Regions from separate parts of the Homo sapiens genome. Here region 2 is linked to region 1. The links come from fine-mapping of genetic effects on gene expression. Tissue or cell type: whole blood. Region 1 holds a variant in brackets; the other region holds the start of a gene. All regions are shown on one strand. Distances are from middle to middle.

What was found. PIP is the estimated chance that this variant, and not a neighbour inherited with it, causes the effect.
Region 2: MAN2C1 starts here. The variant in region 1 is fine-mapped to the expression of MAN2C1 in whole blood (INTERVAL, PIP above 0.99).

Annotation. Positions count from the first base shown.
Region 1 is chr15:75,458,900-75,467,002 of GRCh38, reverse strand. It overlaps PTPN9 (protein tyrosine phosphatase non-receptor type 9), which reads left to right. Exons shown (of 13, transcript NM_002833.4): 13 at 1-3,752. Among named protein-coding and RNA genes, the nearest start is that of SIN3A, 11 kb to the right of the region's middle. RefSeq lists an enhancer at 6,021-6,315. The variant T/C (reference allele first, on the strand shown) is at 3,693.
Region 2 is chr15:75,365,191-75,373,293 of GRCh38, reverse strand. It overlaps MAN2C1 (mannosidase alpha class 2C member 1), which reads left to right and starts at 4,687. Exons shown (of 26, transcript NM_006715.4): 1 at 4,687-4,811; 2 at 5,096-5,221; 3 at 5,660-5,783; 4 at 6,702-6,772. The coding sequence starts at 4,711. It overlaps SIN3A (SIN3 transcription regulator family member A), which reads left to right. Exons shown (of 21, transcript NM_001145358.2): 21 at 1,085-3,915. The coding sequence ends at 1,315. RefSeq lists enhancers at 4,512-4,806, 4,491-4,810, 4,382-4,914 and a silencer at 4,941-5,020.

The sequences.
Region 1 (8,103 bases):
CTGACACTATGAGTTCACCTTGTCTGTAGGCCATGGCCCTATCTCTGGACAGAGGGACCAGCACCAGTTCAGTGCTTGAGATGTGCTAAGCACTATGCTAGGTGCTTTTCCCCCACCCTGCCTCATTCAAACCTCACAACAATTCAGTGAGATATTATCTTCTCTCCCTTCTCCTGTGCACCCCTTTCTCATTTCTATATAGATGAGGAAGGTGAGGTCCAGAGGGTTACAGTGATTTGCTCTAAAACGAGCTCAAGTTGGTCTGCTTACAAAGCCTGTGGTCTCTTCACTGCATGGAAGATGGAGATCTTGTGTTTGGAGAACAGAGGTTTGTTTAGCTCTCCTTTCAGAGTAAAAAAAGTTCTTAAATTCCAGGTTGTTGTTCTTGTGCCCATGCTTCATGTAGTAGACGCGAAGGGTGACAGGGTTGGTGACTGACTGTCCTAGCTAGGACCTCCTGATGTAGGGTCCTCATGTCTGCAGCGTACCAAAGGGGTTATCATTCTCCCCAGGAGACTCCATATCTATGGGTACATGGTCTTTGTGAGAAGATCTTGAGTCATTTGCATTTATCTCTTAGAAAGAAAGGAACCAGAAGCTTTGTACATGGAAGACCACTCCCCATATCATACCTGTTGGCTGTTGATGGCCTGCCCAGTTGGGGCAGTTGTGGCTGGGAAATATTGGGGTGTTCTTAATAATAGTCATAGCAGCCAATTTACTGGATGCTCACTCTATTCCAGGCACTGTTCAGAGTAATTTCTAGGTATCATCTCATTCACCCTCAACAACCTTTTGAGGTAGGTATTGACAGAAGAAAAAAATTGAGAGACAGGAATGTTAATTTGCTACAGCCAGGATCCCAGACCATCTGACTCCAAAGTATCTTCTTTCACCTCTTACACTAGACTTCCTCTAAGGATCCATCTTCTGATCTGCCAATAAATTTTTATCGAGTTTCTTACCATAATCAGGAGCTCAAGTGTAGAGCAGAAGATTAATCTAGTTCCTTCTCCAGATGAGCCTCCATTCTCTTGGGAGTGCACAAACATAAGAAGTGAACAGAGATTCTTGGAAATCTGAGAAACCAGAGAGGTCAGGGGTTTGGTGGAACATGTAAGAAATGGGATTAATGATAAACGGCCTGGAGGAGGTAACTTTAAATTGTCATTTATTTGAAGAGGCTGTAACCCGACTGCCCTGTGAATTTAAGGTTATGCATGAGTTCCTCATTGCATATCTGAAGACTGGTGAGGTTATCTATCACTTCAGCTCCATAAAATGCTGATTTCTGGGCCCATCCAGTAGGTTGTTAGTGAGTGACAGGATTATCCAGGTTTGGGAACCATAGATTTAGTTCATGTTTCTGACCCTATAGAGAGTTAACAAATTGATGTCTCCTAAATTTTCAGTAAAACTCAGAGGAACTCCTCCCACTGCCATTGTTTGTAGCTTTTACCAGCGTGAACCTACCTGTGTTAGGTGTTAAAGGAGGAGGTAAAGGAAAGGGAAGGCAGAGACGCAACCCAGAATCTGTTTGGCAAGTCAGGGTTCTCATACAGGAGACTTAGTGAACAAAGCAAGAGAAAATGCTCAGGGTCCAAGTGCAGTGGCTTTATGCCTGTAATCCCAGTACTTTGGAAGGCCGAGGTGGGCAGATCACCTGAGGTCAGGAGTTTGAGACCAGCCTGACCAATATGATGAAACCCCATCTCTACTAAAAATATAAAAATTACCCGGGTGTGGTGGTATGTGCTTGTAATCCCAGCTACTCGGGAGGCTGAAATGGGAGAATCACTTGAATCTGGGAGGCAGAGGTTGCAATGAGCCGAGATCGCGCCATTGCACTCTAGCCTGGGCAACAAGAGTAAAACTCCATCTCAAAAAAAATAAATAAATAAAAAAGAAAGACAGTGTTCAGGAAAGAAGAAAACACTGAGCTAAAGCAGGCTTCTGCTTCTGATTTGATGGCTGTTTGTTTCACCTTTCTCTAACATTCCCATGCTATATAATTTTTCAAACATGAGATAATCCCTGTGTCCTTTTTCCCATTGCTCCCTTCATCTTGCCCATCCTCATTGGCTAGGATGGGACTCCTGAGACGAAGGGTGCCCCAGCATCCTCAGCCTCGGAGGCCCACCCTTATCAGTCTTCATGTGACAGTATGCAGGTAAATGACAGAGTAGGACTTGTTCTTGGGAGAATGGACTATTTAGCATCATAGCCCTAGGGAAATTTGGTTCCTTCCCTGAAAGGAATGCTTCCTGTCTCTTGGGACAGACAGACACACATACAAAAACTTTTATAAATCAGAGACCTAGAGGGAATTGGGCCAAGAGGCATTGGCCAAGTAGAAAAGCTTCTCTAGAGTGACCCAGCTCTTTTGTGGTTTTGAGGTCTTACCACTGAACCAAACCCAAGTCCTAGGTTCCCTCTGTAAAAGAAGGGGCTACACTAGATGATCCTACCATGGGTCCTCTGACTGTCAGGGTCCAGTTCTTTGTTAGACAGTGCAAACACCCATAGAGGAGCTATTAGGCCTTTACTTGGGTTGAGTTGGCTCCCACTAGCACTCCCCACTTTTCATTTTTTTTACTTTCAGAGACAGAGTCTCACTCTGTTGCCTAGGTTAGAGGGGAGTGGCATGATCATGGCTCACTGCAGTCTCAACAACTGGGCTCAAGCAGGAACCCAGCTTTTTTTTTTTTTCTCTCTCTCTCTCTAGAGACAGGATCTCACTATGTTGCCCAGGCTGGTCTCGAACTCCAGCCTCAAGCAATCCTCCTGCCTCGGCCTCCCAAAGTGAGAGGATTACAGGCATGGGCCACCACACCCAGCCTCTCCAGTTTTAGTGTGTTTTCAGAGTCTCTTCTTTCAAGCTGCTGCTACTTCCCTAGCTTCCCTCAGTTCTCTTCCCCCTTGGCCTTCCAATTGGAGGAAAAGCAGGTCAGGTCTCTGTCATCTCCAAGACCAGCCTATAGGCCTTTAAAGTTTCCCTGTTTCTTAATGTGGGGTCTACAGGGTTTCTCAGAGGCAAAGCATGAACAGACCAAGGGTCCTATAGCTCCCAACCTAGTCCTTAGATTTCTCTCTGGCCTTGGTTACTCCCACAAACCACTGTGAGCCTACCAAGGGCAGGAATGGAAATGCCCATCAGCCTGGGAACCATCTTTTTCTCTTAGGAGGTATCCGCCCTATAGTTACCTTTACACAACACTTGTGAATATCAAGTGTTCTAGACTGCACTGTTCATAATTGACTACAGAGAAGACTAGGATCTTCTCCACAAATAGAAATATATCACTTTTACTTGGAGATGTTTTCTTGGGGGAAAAAAAATCTAGCACCTTGAAACCTGTTACAATGTTTAAATCTCCCTTCTTTACCTTGGCTGTCATAAAATCCTCCTGTTTGAGCTAAATGTGGCCTGCTGAAGTCTTAAATGCCCATATTTTTCAGGCTAAGGCCATGGTGGACATAGCTAACTCCACTAGAATCCTAGCTGGGGGTGTTGGAAAAAACGGTACAGTGCCCCTCTCAGACTCCAGGCTCACGTCCGTCTCCCCTCCCCGCACATTATAATCTACTACTTCTCTAATGCTGCTGCGTAGTTTGTCTTAAAGCCTCAAGACTGGCCAGATGTGCACCTGAGTAAAGGTCAGCCATTTCATCTGGGGGCTCTTTCTTGACTT[T/C]TAATGAATTTTCTTCTGTGAAAAAATGTATTTTTAATAAAAAATTTTCTGTGGCCAGCATCCAGTGGAAGTCTGGAGTCTGATGTGCAGGGCAGATACTGGTCTGGAGATGTCAGTTTAGGACTTAGTTAGACAGAAGCAATGAGCCTTGAAGTGAGAATGAGGAAGGCAAGAGAGGAGATACGTTTGGATGTCACCAACATTTAGGTAATGGGCGGAGGAAGAAAAGCTGCTGAAGGATACTAATGAACAGGCAGAGGTAACTGAGCACAAAGCCAGGCTGCTTTGTCACAGGCTGCTGAGAGGTAGGTAGTGGCTGGGACGAATGAACAAGATCTGAAATGTGGGTTCATTAGAAGTCTTCGAAGGGACTATGTGGCTGTTAGGGAGGCTGCATGAGAGAGATGTGAAGGAATAGACTGCAGTGCCCAGGCTGTCCTCACTTAAACCAAAACAAGGCCCACCTTGATCTCTTACACATTAGGCTTCTGAATAAGATTTTCTTTGAACAAAGGACCTTGCTGGGTGCAGTGGCTCAGGCCTGTAATCCCAGTGCTTTGGGGGGCTAAGGTGGGAGGATCACTTGAGGCCAGGAGTTTCAGACCAACCTGAGCAACATGGCAAAACCCCGTCTCTAAAAAAATAAATAAAAATAATAAATTCTCAAATGGCAAGCTATTCTATTTTTAAAAAGCAGTAACAAAGGAACTCGTTGCTTTAAAAAAAAAAAAAAAAACGTCAGGCCAGGCGCAGTGGCTCACACCTGTAATCCCAGCACCTTGGGAGGCCAAGGCGGGTGGATCACTTGAGGTCGGGAGTTTGAGACCAGCCTGACCAACACAGAGAAACCCCATCTCTCCTAAAAATACAAAATTAGCCGGGTATGGTGGCGCAAGCCTGTAATCCTAGCTACTGGGGAGGTTGAGGCAGAAGAATCGCTTGAACCCAGGAGACGGAGGTTTCGGTGAGCGGAGATCGCGCCATTGCACTCCAGCCTGGGCAAGAAGAGCGAAACTCTGTCTCAAAAAAAAAAAAAAAAAAGCCACCAAACAACTGGTAAAGAGAAGGAAACACTTTGAAAACATAAAGCCAGGTAAACTGAGGAACATGCTGAGTGACCCAGAAGGGTAAACTAATGCTCAGCCAGGGGAAACATTTCAAGGCAGTGAGTAGCAGTCATAAAAATTCCTTCAAACATTCCGAGCCTCCCAGGAGAATGGCGTGAAACCGGGAAGCTGAGCTTGCAGTGAGCTGAGATCGCGCCACTGCACTCCAGCCTGGATGACAGAGCGAGACTCCGTCTCAAAGAAAAAAAAAAAATTCCGAGCCTCCAAGGCCACCCAGAAATCAGAAATTACGGAATATATACCATCTAAACCTGGTTGCAAGAGAAATGGAGTTTCTTCACATCATGGGATTATTTGGCCCTCTAGGCCTGCTCCAGGGCTCATTGCTCAATCGGACTTTGCATTTGAATGGCCAGGAGAAGAGGGAGGTAGGGATGAGATAAAGGAGGGGAAAAAGATATGAGAACTCTTGACTGAATGCTAGGGATACTTAATTTTTTTTTTTTTTTTTTGAGACAGAGTCTCTGTCGCCCAGGCTGGAGTGCAGTGGCATGATCTCGGATCACTGCAACCTCCGGCTCCCCGGCTCAAGTGATTCTCCTGCCTCAGCCTCCCAAGTAGCTGGGACTACAGGCGCGTGCCACCATGCCCGGCTAATTTTTTTGTATTTTTAGTAGAGACGGGGTTTCACTGTGTTAGCCAGGATAGTCTTGATCTGACTTCGTGATCCAAAGTGTTGGGATTACAGGCGTGAGCCACCACGCCCGGCAGGCATACTTAATTTTAAATCTCACATCTTCCCACCGAAGTAGGTATTCTGATTCTTAGATTACAGATAAAGAAACTGAAAAGATAAATGATTTGCCAAAATCATCTTGCCTTGAACCTAGAAGATGCTTTGGGTTGTGGGTCCCTGGGGAGCCAGCCTCATATCCTCCTTACCTGGATATTACTGAGAGTCTTAGCCCTCAGAGCTTGTGTGGATAGGGTGCTGGCACTGATATCCTTGGCAGAGTCACTGAAGTGCAGGCCCTAAATGTCTCTCAGTCACCACCTACCATAAGTGCCCTAAAGAACTTTGAATGAGTCCTTTTTGTGAAAGAGAGAGGGTGTATGTGAGACACCTGTGAGATTGAGGGTGTCAGGAGGTGTGATAGATTTGAGTTTATGTGTTGCGAGTTTAGGTCTTCTGTGTATGTATGTATGTATGTGCATCAGACAAATGTTGCTTTTCTGGATAATTTTCTGGAAACGGCCAGAAATCATTTAGAATTGTCTGAGGATAAACTGATCTTTAAGTTAGGGAGGTGAGGAGTGTGGAGCAACAGGGGAGTCAGGCTGTTTTTCTCCAGGCCCCAACCTGGGTCACTGGCCGGAGTGCACAAAGACAGCGTGTGGGAGTGGAGGCAAAGCTTAGACTTTGGACCCAGACTTCCCTTAAGCTATTTGACTTGAGCAAGTCACTCTACTGCTGTTAGCCTCAGTTTGCTCATCTATAACTAAGGATAATAATCCCTAACTCACAAACTCTACAAGAATTTGTTGTTGTTGTTGTTTGAGACAGGGTCTTGCTCTGTCTCCCAGGCTCAAGTGCAGCGGTGTGATTACAGCTAACAGCAGTCTCAACCTCCCAGGCTCAGGTGACCTTCCTGCCTCAGCCTCTTGAGTAGCTGGGACCACAGGGACATGCCACCATGCCCAACTAAATTTGTTTTTATTTTTTGTAGAGACAGTCTCACTGTGTTGCCCAGGCTGGTCTATGAGACTTTTCACATAAAACGGGCCTCCAGGAATCAGAACCTGACCTACCAGTGTGATTTCTCCTAGGAGGGCCCTTACCCAAATCCACTTAATTTTATTTTAATTATTATCATTATTATTATTTTTACCTATACCAGTTGGTTCACAAAGTCCACTTAGTTTTGTCTTCACTGATAGGGTAGTCAGGGGAGTAGCATGGATGTAATCCCTCAGTGCAGCTGGCAGCTGGAGGGACAATGTCACCAAATCAAGCGTTCTCTTTCCCAAAGAATGTGGGACTTGCCGTGCTGTCCAGGTGTCAACATACTGAGTGAGAAACCATCACTGGACCCCTTCCAAAGGGCCCCCTGTATCTGACTGCAGTGAGCTCTGGGGACTCAGAGGTGCATCGAAGTGTCTGTCCTCAAGAAACTCAGTCTGCCAAGTGTTCAGGAGGAGGTCTCCACCAGGGTGGCACACATAGGACCATGGGCAGTGTCAGCAAAGCCTGGTTCTCTGAGTGGAGGTAACTGTTGCAGTTGCAAATCCTCCATGAGTAACTGCATCCACAGCACAACACGTGCTGCCTAGTATCACTGTCAAATGCTGGGTCTTTGGCTTCCACAGCAGCTCAGAACCTTACCAGGTGATAAAGCACACTTTATCATCACATTTGATCCTCATAACAGGGCAAGGATTGCTATGTTATCCTCTTATATAGGAGAGGAAGCTGATCCACAGATAAGAAGGGACTAAGTGGGAACCAGGGGACTCAACTTCCAGACTAGTTCTTTCTGCTCCACCAATCTGCCTCATCTCACTTTGACACAGTATCTGTTATGCCTTCAGCTAGAGCCCCTTAAGAAATTAAGAAATAGAGCAGGAATTTGAGATGGGGATCCAGCCATCAGGGGATTGGTTCTTTTTTTTTTTTTTTTTCTTTGAGATGGAGTTTCACTCTTCCCCACCCAGGCTGGAGTGAGATGGCATGATCTCGGCTCATTGCAACTTCTGCCTCCCGGGTTCAAGTGATTCTCCTGCCTCAGCCTCCTGAGTAGCTGGGATTATAGGCGCCCACTACCACGCCCAGCTAATTTTTCTATTTTTAGTAGAGACGGGGTTTTGCCATGTTAGCCAGGCTGGTCTTGGACTCCTGACCTCAGGTGATCCAACCACCTGGGCCTCCCAAAGTACTAGGATTACAGGTGTGAGGCACTGCACCCGACTGGGTTCTTTTTGAGACTCTGTCTCAAAAAAAACTCTCAAAGAGTTTCACTCTTCTGCCCAGGCTGGAGTGAAGTGGCGCGATCTAGGCTCACTGCAACCTCCGCCTCCCAGGTTCAAACAATTCTCCTGCCTCAGCCTCCCAACTAGCTGGGACTGTAGGCATGTTGCCACCATGGACAGCTAATTTTTTTTTTTTTTTGAGACAAAGTTTTGCTCTTGTCACCCAGGCTGGAGTGCAGTGATGTGATCTCGGTTCACTGCAACCTCCACCTCCCAGGATCAAGCGATTCTCCTGCCTCAGCCTCCCGAGTAGCTCGGACTGTAGGCACATGCAACCACACACAGCTAATTTTTTTTTTTTGAGATGGAGTTTCACT
Region 2 (8,103 bases), 94 kb after region 1:
AGATTCTCTTGTCTCAGCCTCTCGAGTAGCTGGGATTACGGGCGTGCACCACCACACCTGGCTCATTTTTTTTGCTATGTGTTGTGTGTCTGCCTGTCTCTGATTCACATTATTTGGGACACTGGGCAACACCAGTTTTGTCTTTGTATCTCTTCTAGTATCCTTGCATGTGGACACCAATAAATTTTTATTGAATGTGTTGGTGGGAACAGAACCCCCTGCAGAACATCTGCCAAGCCTGGACTCTGCTTCCCAGGGTGGGGTAACACAGTGGAGGGAGAGTGGTTTTAAGCCCTTTGCTTTGCACTGTCTGGCTTAGAGGTGGATCTCCATGCTGATAGAAGTGATCAATGGCTCACTGGGTCCTACCCAGGATACATTAGAATCAGCTGGATTGCTGGTTTAAAATGCACATTGGTAAACCAAGGAAATGTGGGTTTTGGGGGTTTTGGGTTTTTTTTTTTTTTTTTTTTGGAGACAGGGTTTGGCTCTGTCATCTAGGCTGGGGTGCGGTGGTGCGATCTTGGCTCACTGCAGCCTCCACCTCCTGGCTCAAGCGATCCTCCCACTTCAGCCTACCAAGTAGCTGGGACTACAGGTGTGTGCCACCACGCCCAGTTATTATTTGTATTTTTGTAGAGATGGGGTTTTGCCATGTTGCCCAGGCTGGTCTCAAACTCCTGAGCTCAAGCGAACTGCCTGCCTCAGCCTCCCAGAGTACTAGGATTACAGGCATGAGTCACTGCACCTGGTCAGAAATGTGTATTTTTTAACACATTCCCTCGGTTATACTAACGCATGCTAAAATTGAGAACAGCGAGCTTTTTCAGCCCAGAGCCTGTGTTCGCATTTCTTTGGAGGCTTTATGGATTTTCATGCCCTCACATGTTCTATGTTCTTACCTCTTTAACTTCTCTTTAAACAGAGAATCCTTTTTTTTTTCTTTTAAGAAAAAAACAGTGGTATCTAAGACTTGAGCCCACATCTTTCCTTTGCTCCTTTAGAAGAAAATTAGGCTTTGTATTTGAAGGGCTCTTTTTTGGTTCTGCTTCATTTAATAAAATTTTTTTTTTCTGTTTTGCAGTCCCATGAGCGTGTAAGCAAGCGTCTACATCAGAGATTCCAGGCCTGGGTAGATAAATGGACCAAGGAGCATGTGCCCCGTGAAATGGCAGCAGAGACCAGCAAGTGGCTCATGGGTGAGGGGCTGGAGGGCCTGGTGCCCTGTACCACCACCTGTGATACAGAGACCCTGCATTTTGTGAGCATTAACAAGTATCGTGTCAAATACGGCACAGTATTCAAAGCCCCTTAACTGCAAAGCCAGAGCAGATAACTTGGGGTGTGTGTGGGGATGTGTGTGTGGGCCTATGCACTCACACACTGAAGAAACAAGGAAGATGCCTTTCAAGCCTCACTGGGCCTCTCTGGGACATGGCCACCTGACCTGTGTGTGGCTGGTGCAGCCTGGCACCAAGTGGGCTACCTGTTAGGAACATGAATACCTTACAAAGCTGAAGCTGGAACTTTTCCCAAAGGGTTTTGGGTATAGCCTGCCCTGGAGGGGAAGGAAGTCCATGCAAGCAAAGACATGCAGTTTGCTTGCACACACCAGCAGAGCTAAGACTGGAGTCTCCTGTGGCCTAACTTTCAATGAGGGAACCGGATGCTGTTCACACTTTGACTGGATGGAGATGCATTTACAAAACAGACTGGAGAAGGACTTAATACTCAGATGGATTGGAACTATCATGGTCACTGCTCCTCTCCCCTCCCCACAAAAGGAAAAAAAAGCTGGATTTGATTTTTTTTTTCTGGTCACTCGAGCACATCTAAGATCACCCATTAGGTTTTATCTGGGACCTGCAGTTTGGCTTTGGGATTGATCATCTTGTGGATTTTATTCCTGACGATTCCCTTGCTGCCTACCCTTTTCTCTCCTCTGGTTCTCAACCTCAACGAGTTCAAATCAGTTGTCCTTTTTAGCTCCCGTGGAACTGTTTTGTATCTGCCTCTTTACTAGTCTACCTTAGTGCCATCCACCAGCTTTACTCTCTGACACACACACGCACACACACACACAATTTTAACTTGTTTTTTTGTACATAATGTACATACTGTCAATTTTTTATTAAAAGAAATATGCTTTGATGTGCTAGCATAACTGCTCTAGCTTCTTGTGTACCATAGTACTGTGGCTTCAGATTTAGTACCTATGAACAGATGTACAAGACATTTATTACACTTTTTACCAAAGGGAGTTACCATTGTAGTACTTTTGTGTAAAACTTGTCTTCCCCTTTGCCCCCAACTTTTTTTTTTTTTTTTTTGTAAATAAATAAAGCTTGGTTCTTACTTAAGGAATAAACTCTCAACCCACGTCCCTTGTCCTCACCAGAAAATACTGTGAAGCAGGGATTTTGACTTCAGTTCCTTATCCAGGGTAGAAACAGGATTTTGCTTAAAATACTTGTTACTTGTCCCAAATCAAAATATTCCAAAATCTTAGAATACTTAAGTCTTTTAGTACGTGTTTTTTTCCCTTGTTCAAATAATCTGAAAATATTTTATATTTGGGTAAGTTGTCAAGCTATGTAGTTTGTATTTCTATATATTTTTTCTTATTCACATTGGTGATGGATGGGGGTGAGCAACTTAAATACCAAACCAGTGTTTGAAAAAAAAGTGTGCATAAGGCATGTGGTATACCTTATAAATGGAGTTGGGAGGGAGAGAATTTGAAATGGGATACCTATTTTTTTAATTACATAAATTTAAACTAGCAGACATTTAAACATGAATGATTAGGATTTTTCTATGTGGTTAACCTGGACTTTCTGAACAAAGACCAACTGAGCCCCTCCCAGTACTCTGGTGGATTTTTCTTCAGCAACCATTACGCAAGTCTTAGTTGTAACCAGCAATGTTCTGTGTGTTTTATGTTTGCTTTTTAGTTAAAAATCACCACCACCACCAAAAAGAAAAACAAAATTTTTTGGCTCCTGGATTTTCAAAACACATGGTAGACCTCTCTGATTTTAGGCTTTTATTGTTTAAAGACAGTGTCTCGCTTTATGACCCACACTGGAGTGCAGTGCCACGATCATAGCTCACTGCAGGCTTGACCTCCCAGGCTCAAGCAGTCCTCCCACCTCGGCCTCCTGAGTAGCTGCATGCCACCACGCCCAGCTAATTTTTTAACTTTTTGTAGAGACAGGGTCTTGCTATGCTGCCCAGGTTGGTCTCAAACTCCTGGCCTCAAGCTGTCCTCCCACCTCGGCCTCGCAAAGTGCTGAGATTACAGGTGTGAGCCACCCTGGCCTGATTTTAGGCTTTTTTTGTACTGGGGAGAAGAGACTGTGAGCCAAAGTGTAGGGTGCCAAAAAGAGCTTTGTGGGATGAGATTTTAGGGCAAAGCTGGGGCAGTGTCTGACTTGGCGGTGGTCATGTGTACTGATTTAGGGGAAAGATCTTGAGGTTTTCTCAAATAATTCACCTATCCCCGTGTTCCCTCAAGAAAGGTCATGTTGACCTGGAACCATAGGGGAAATTGGTGGGGTGTGATCAGGGTCAGCCCCAGCTGTTGCTGCCCCTGCAGTGTTTTGTCCAGAGCACTTGCCTGCAGGTCAGGATAGGATTTCAAGGCCAGTTCAGGAGAAAGTCCCAACCCACCAGTGCAACCAACAAAAGAGTAAGTTTTACCTACAGCCTGGGTTTTCACAAGTAGCATTTTTATTCCTCCTGCTGTCTGACATCTGAGCTCCAAGCTCTAAACCCAACCTGTATTATATGCAGCAGCAGGTTATCTTTGTTTTAAATCACATTTGTTATTCTGTACTTAGTCACCTTTCCGTGTGATCTGCATTTGAAATGTTGTAAACTTGGTCAGTATTTCCATTAAAATATCAGGGCTAATCTTGTGTATTTTTTTTTGTTCCTAATGATTTTATAGACAAAGACTCTTGGCAACCCCAGGAGAAAAAAAATAAAGCTGTCAGTGGAGTACTAGGGATGAGAATGAAACTGGAGGTCTGTTTCTGGTATTATGGCTTCCCGGGACTCTACAGTCCTGTATGGTGAAATACATTTTTCCATTGGGATCGTCAATGCCATGACTGTTCTGCCACCTCAAACTCCAGAGTTTCTGGTGATGTGCAAGAGTTAGCAATATACATTCAGTAAAGCGTGTAATCGAGTAAGTCGTAGTAACTTGGGCGTAAAGCTCTACCACCCTGCTCACTAACACCCTGATCTCCGTCCGGTATGAAAACACCTATTCCGGGTAGTCTGGCTCCACGTTAAGCAAACACCACTTTCCGTGTTCACCGACAGCTAGAGCCAGAGGTCTCCCGGTTGCTGCTTCTGAGGCTGGGTCTGCAGCAGCTGAGGCTCCCGCCTGTCTTGCCGAATGGCCTAAGTCTCTGTCTTGAGACTTTCGAGAGTTCTAATCGTCAAATTTCCCATTTTATTTTGAGATTTTCCCTGCGGCCCACTATTTCGGACAACATAGGAGAGCCTCAAAAACAGTTTCTAGCTTCCAACTCGGCTCAAAGTTCAGACAGCAGCTGGGCTTCCGAGAGCCGCCGGTGTTCCAAGAAAAGCTGCCCGGGACTGGGAGGCGCCCTCTGGACGCCGGAACCTTTGGTTTCCTGCCGTGGAGCGGAACGGTAGCGCCAGGGGCCTTCCGGAAAGAGGAGCGAGAGCCCGGCGATGGCGGCTGCGCCGGCCTTGAAGCACTGGCGCACCACGCTGGAGCGGGTGGAGAAGTTCGTGTCGCCGCTCTACTTTACCGACTGTAACCTCCGCGGCAGGTGTGGCCCCTGGTCCCCCGCAGCCGGCCGACCGCAACCGTGCGCCTCAAGCTTTCCTTCCGGGGAGAAACCTAAGCTGCAGCCACCCGGGCCGCGGGACAAAGTGCCCGCCGCGGGCAGGGCAGGGGCCGGGGAGGAGGGGGTAGGGAATGGACTGTGCCGCGGAGCGGCCAGGCAGCCCTCTTGGCGGAGGATCCAGGGAAAGTGCGGCCCCACCGGCCAGCTGGCCCCCAGGCGGAAACGGGGCGGCCTCCAGCATGTGCCCACCGGCCCGTCCCACGCAGGCTTTTTGGGGCCAGCTGCCCTGTGGCTGTGCTCTCCAGCTTCCTGACGCCGGAGAGACTTCCCTACCAGGAGGCAGTCCAGCGGGACTTCCGCCCCGCGCAGGTCGGCGACAGCTTCGGACCCACGTAGGTAACGCCCAGCGGGTGGGCGGGGCCACAGGCCTAGGGGAAGTCCCAACCCAGCTCCCAGCCACACCTTCGTTGTCTGCCCTCTGCCGTAGACAACTACGTGGGATCGAGCAGCACCCTCTGCTGGGAGCAGCACCCTCTGCTGGGAACAGCTCTCTGGTCCCTGGGTCTTCAGGGGATGGTTTTCATTCCCACGTGGCCGCCTCTGGACATCCCTTAGGAAGGGCACCCTAGGGATCACGAACCTTTGACGCCTCTGCCTGTTTCCCTCATCTTGCTTCTCACCTTGTTGCTCCTTTCTTGTGACTCAAAGCTGAGTACCTTGTGACACTGCAGATGCTTGGAGAGTTTCAAGCCCCTGCCGACACTTTATCCAAGGAAGGATATCAGGATAGGACTTCTACCTCTAGGCCTATCACAACAGCTCTCTTGCAGATGGTGGACCTGCTGGTTCCGGGTGGAGCTGACCATCCCAGAGGCATGGGTGGGCCAGGAAGTTCACCTTTGCTGGGAAAGTGATGGAGAAGGTCTGGTGTGGCGTGATGGAGAACCTGTCCAGGTGAGGAACCCTGTCCTAGGGCCAGGTATGGCCACATTTCAGCCCTGAAATGACTACAGCCCTTCTTCTGTGGACTCTGGAGAAGCCACAGCTGAGTTGCTCTGCCCACAGGGTGGTATCAGGATTTCAGGACTAGGGAAGTTGCCACTTGGGCATCTGTGCAATTGGTCCTTAGTTTTTATTGTGTATAATACAAACTTATAGGAAAACATTTCAAACAGTTCTAGATAAAGTAATGGATCTCTCCTTATCACCCATCCCATTCCCCAGCTATAACCACTGTTAAGTGTCTTATTCATGCTCCACCCTTATCAGGTTTAGTCCTTATACTCCTATCTAGTAGGTCTTTATACCCATTTACAAATTAAGAAACAGATGTGTAGTTGACTCACTCAGGTTCACACAGCTTCTATTTCAAATTGGACTGACTCTCAATCTGGGGTTAAGACTGTTCTTCCTGGCTACAAGAAGGCAGAGACCATCCCTTCCTCCCTTCACTGGCTCAGCAAATATCTCCTGGTGTCCATTCTGGGCCATACCCTTAAGCACTAGGGTGTAGCAGGGAATGAGGCAAACCTGCCCCTGACTTCACGGAGTTTCTTTCCCGGTATTTATTTAGGGGTGCAGAGGCCACCAGAATCCACACTCAGGCTGCCTAACCCCTTCCCAGGGCCCTTCCCATAAGACCATGGGTTTGCCACTGGTAAACAGGGGCTATTTGACGGTCATGGTGCTGGCTGCCATGGGAGTTGGGGCATCTACTGCCAAGGGTCCCTGATTTGCCAATCTTGGCCCTGCTTGGGAGAGAGGACCCAGAGCTGGGAACCAGATGGAGGGGCCTGACTCCCCATGGCTTACACTTTACCTGAACTGTCCAAAAGCCTCAAGCCTTGTCTCTCTCACTCCCCTCCCTACTAGGGTTTAACCAAAGAGGGTGAGAAGACCAGCTATGTCCTGACTGACAGGCTGGGGGAAAGAGACCCCCGAAGGTGAGTCCCTGTGCCCTGGTTGACCAGTGCTGTCAGGGAGGGAGTACCAGTGAGCAAGGAGGAGCTGAGGCCCAGAGTGATCTCATAAGCCCGCCTCTGCTCTAGCACAATCATCCTCACATCTCATTGTTTGCTTTTAAAAGCATGATTTTTTCCTAACCATAAAAATAATGGGCTGGGTGCAGTGACCCACACTACCCTGGGAGGCTGAGTGGGAGGATCACCTGAGCCCAGGAGGATGAGGCTGCAGTGAGCCATGATCACACCGCTGCACTGCAGCCTGGGCAACAGAGTGAGACCTTGTCTCAAAAATAATAGCAATGTTTGCCTGTGGTAAATACAGGAAAGCACAAAGAAGTAAATAACTACCGTTATTCCACTCCCTAGAATAGAGATGAACATTATTAACATCTCAGCATTCATGTTCTTTTTTTTGAGACGAAGTCTCCCTCTGTCGCCGATGCTGGAGTACAGTAGCACGATCGCAGCTCACTGTACCTTCTGCCTCCCAGGTTCAAGCGATTCTCATGCCTCAGCTTCCCGAGTAGCAGGGATTACAGGTGTGTGCCACCACGTCCAGCTATTTTTTTTTTATTTTTGGTAGAGAAAGGGTTTCACCGTGTTGGCCAGGCTACTCTCAAATTCTTGACCTCAGGTTATCCGCCCCTCTCAGCTTCCCAAAATGCTGGAATTACAGGCGTGAGCCACCGCACCTGGCCCAGTATTCATGTTCTTGGTGTATCTTTCCGGCATAGTTTTTTTTGTTTTTTCGGGGGGGTTTTTTTGGATTTTTTTGAGACGGAGTTTCGCTTTTGTTACCCAGGCTGGAGTGCAATGGCACGATCTCGGCTCACTGCGACCGCCGCCTCCCAGGTTCAAGCAATTCTCCTGCCTCAGCCTCCCTACTAGCTGAGATTACAGGTGCCCACCACCATGCCCAGCTAATTTTTTGTATTTTTAGTAGAGACGGGGTTTGACTCTGTTGGCCAGGCTGGTCTCAAACTGCTGACCTCAGGCTATCCACTTGCCTGAGTCTCCCAAAGTGCTGGGATTACAGGAATGAGCCACCGTGCCCGGCTCATCCCGGTATAGTTTTTACTAGTTAAGATTGTATCCTGACTTCTTACATTCCATGTTATAACATGGACATTTTATGACACCATTAAAAACACTTCTTAGACATTATGAATGTATTTTATATAGATTGACACTGTTTCAGATGCTTTCAGACACTGGGAGTATGGTGGTGAATAAAATAGCCCTTGCCAACAAAGGGAGACAGATTCACTCATATAATTACAAAACTGAGGGCTCTGGAAGGAAATCCTGGG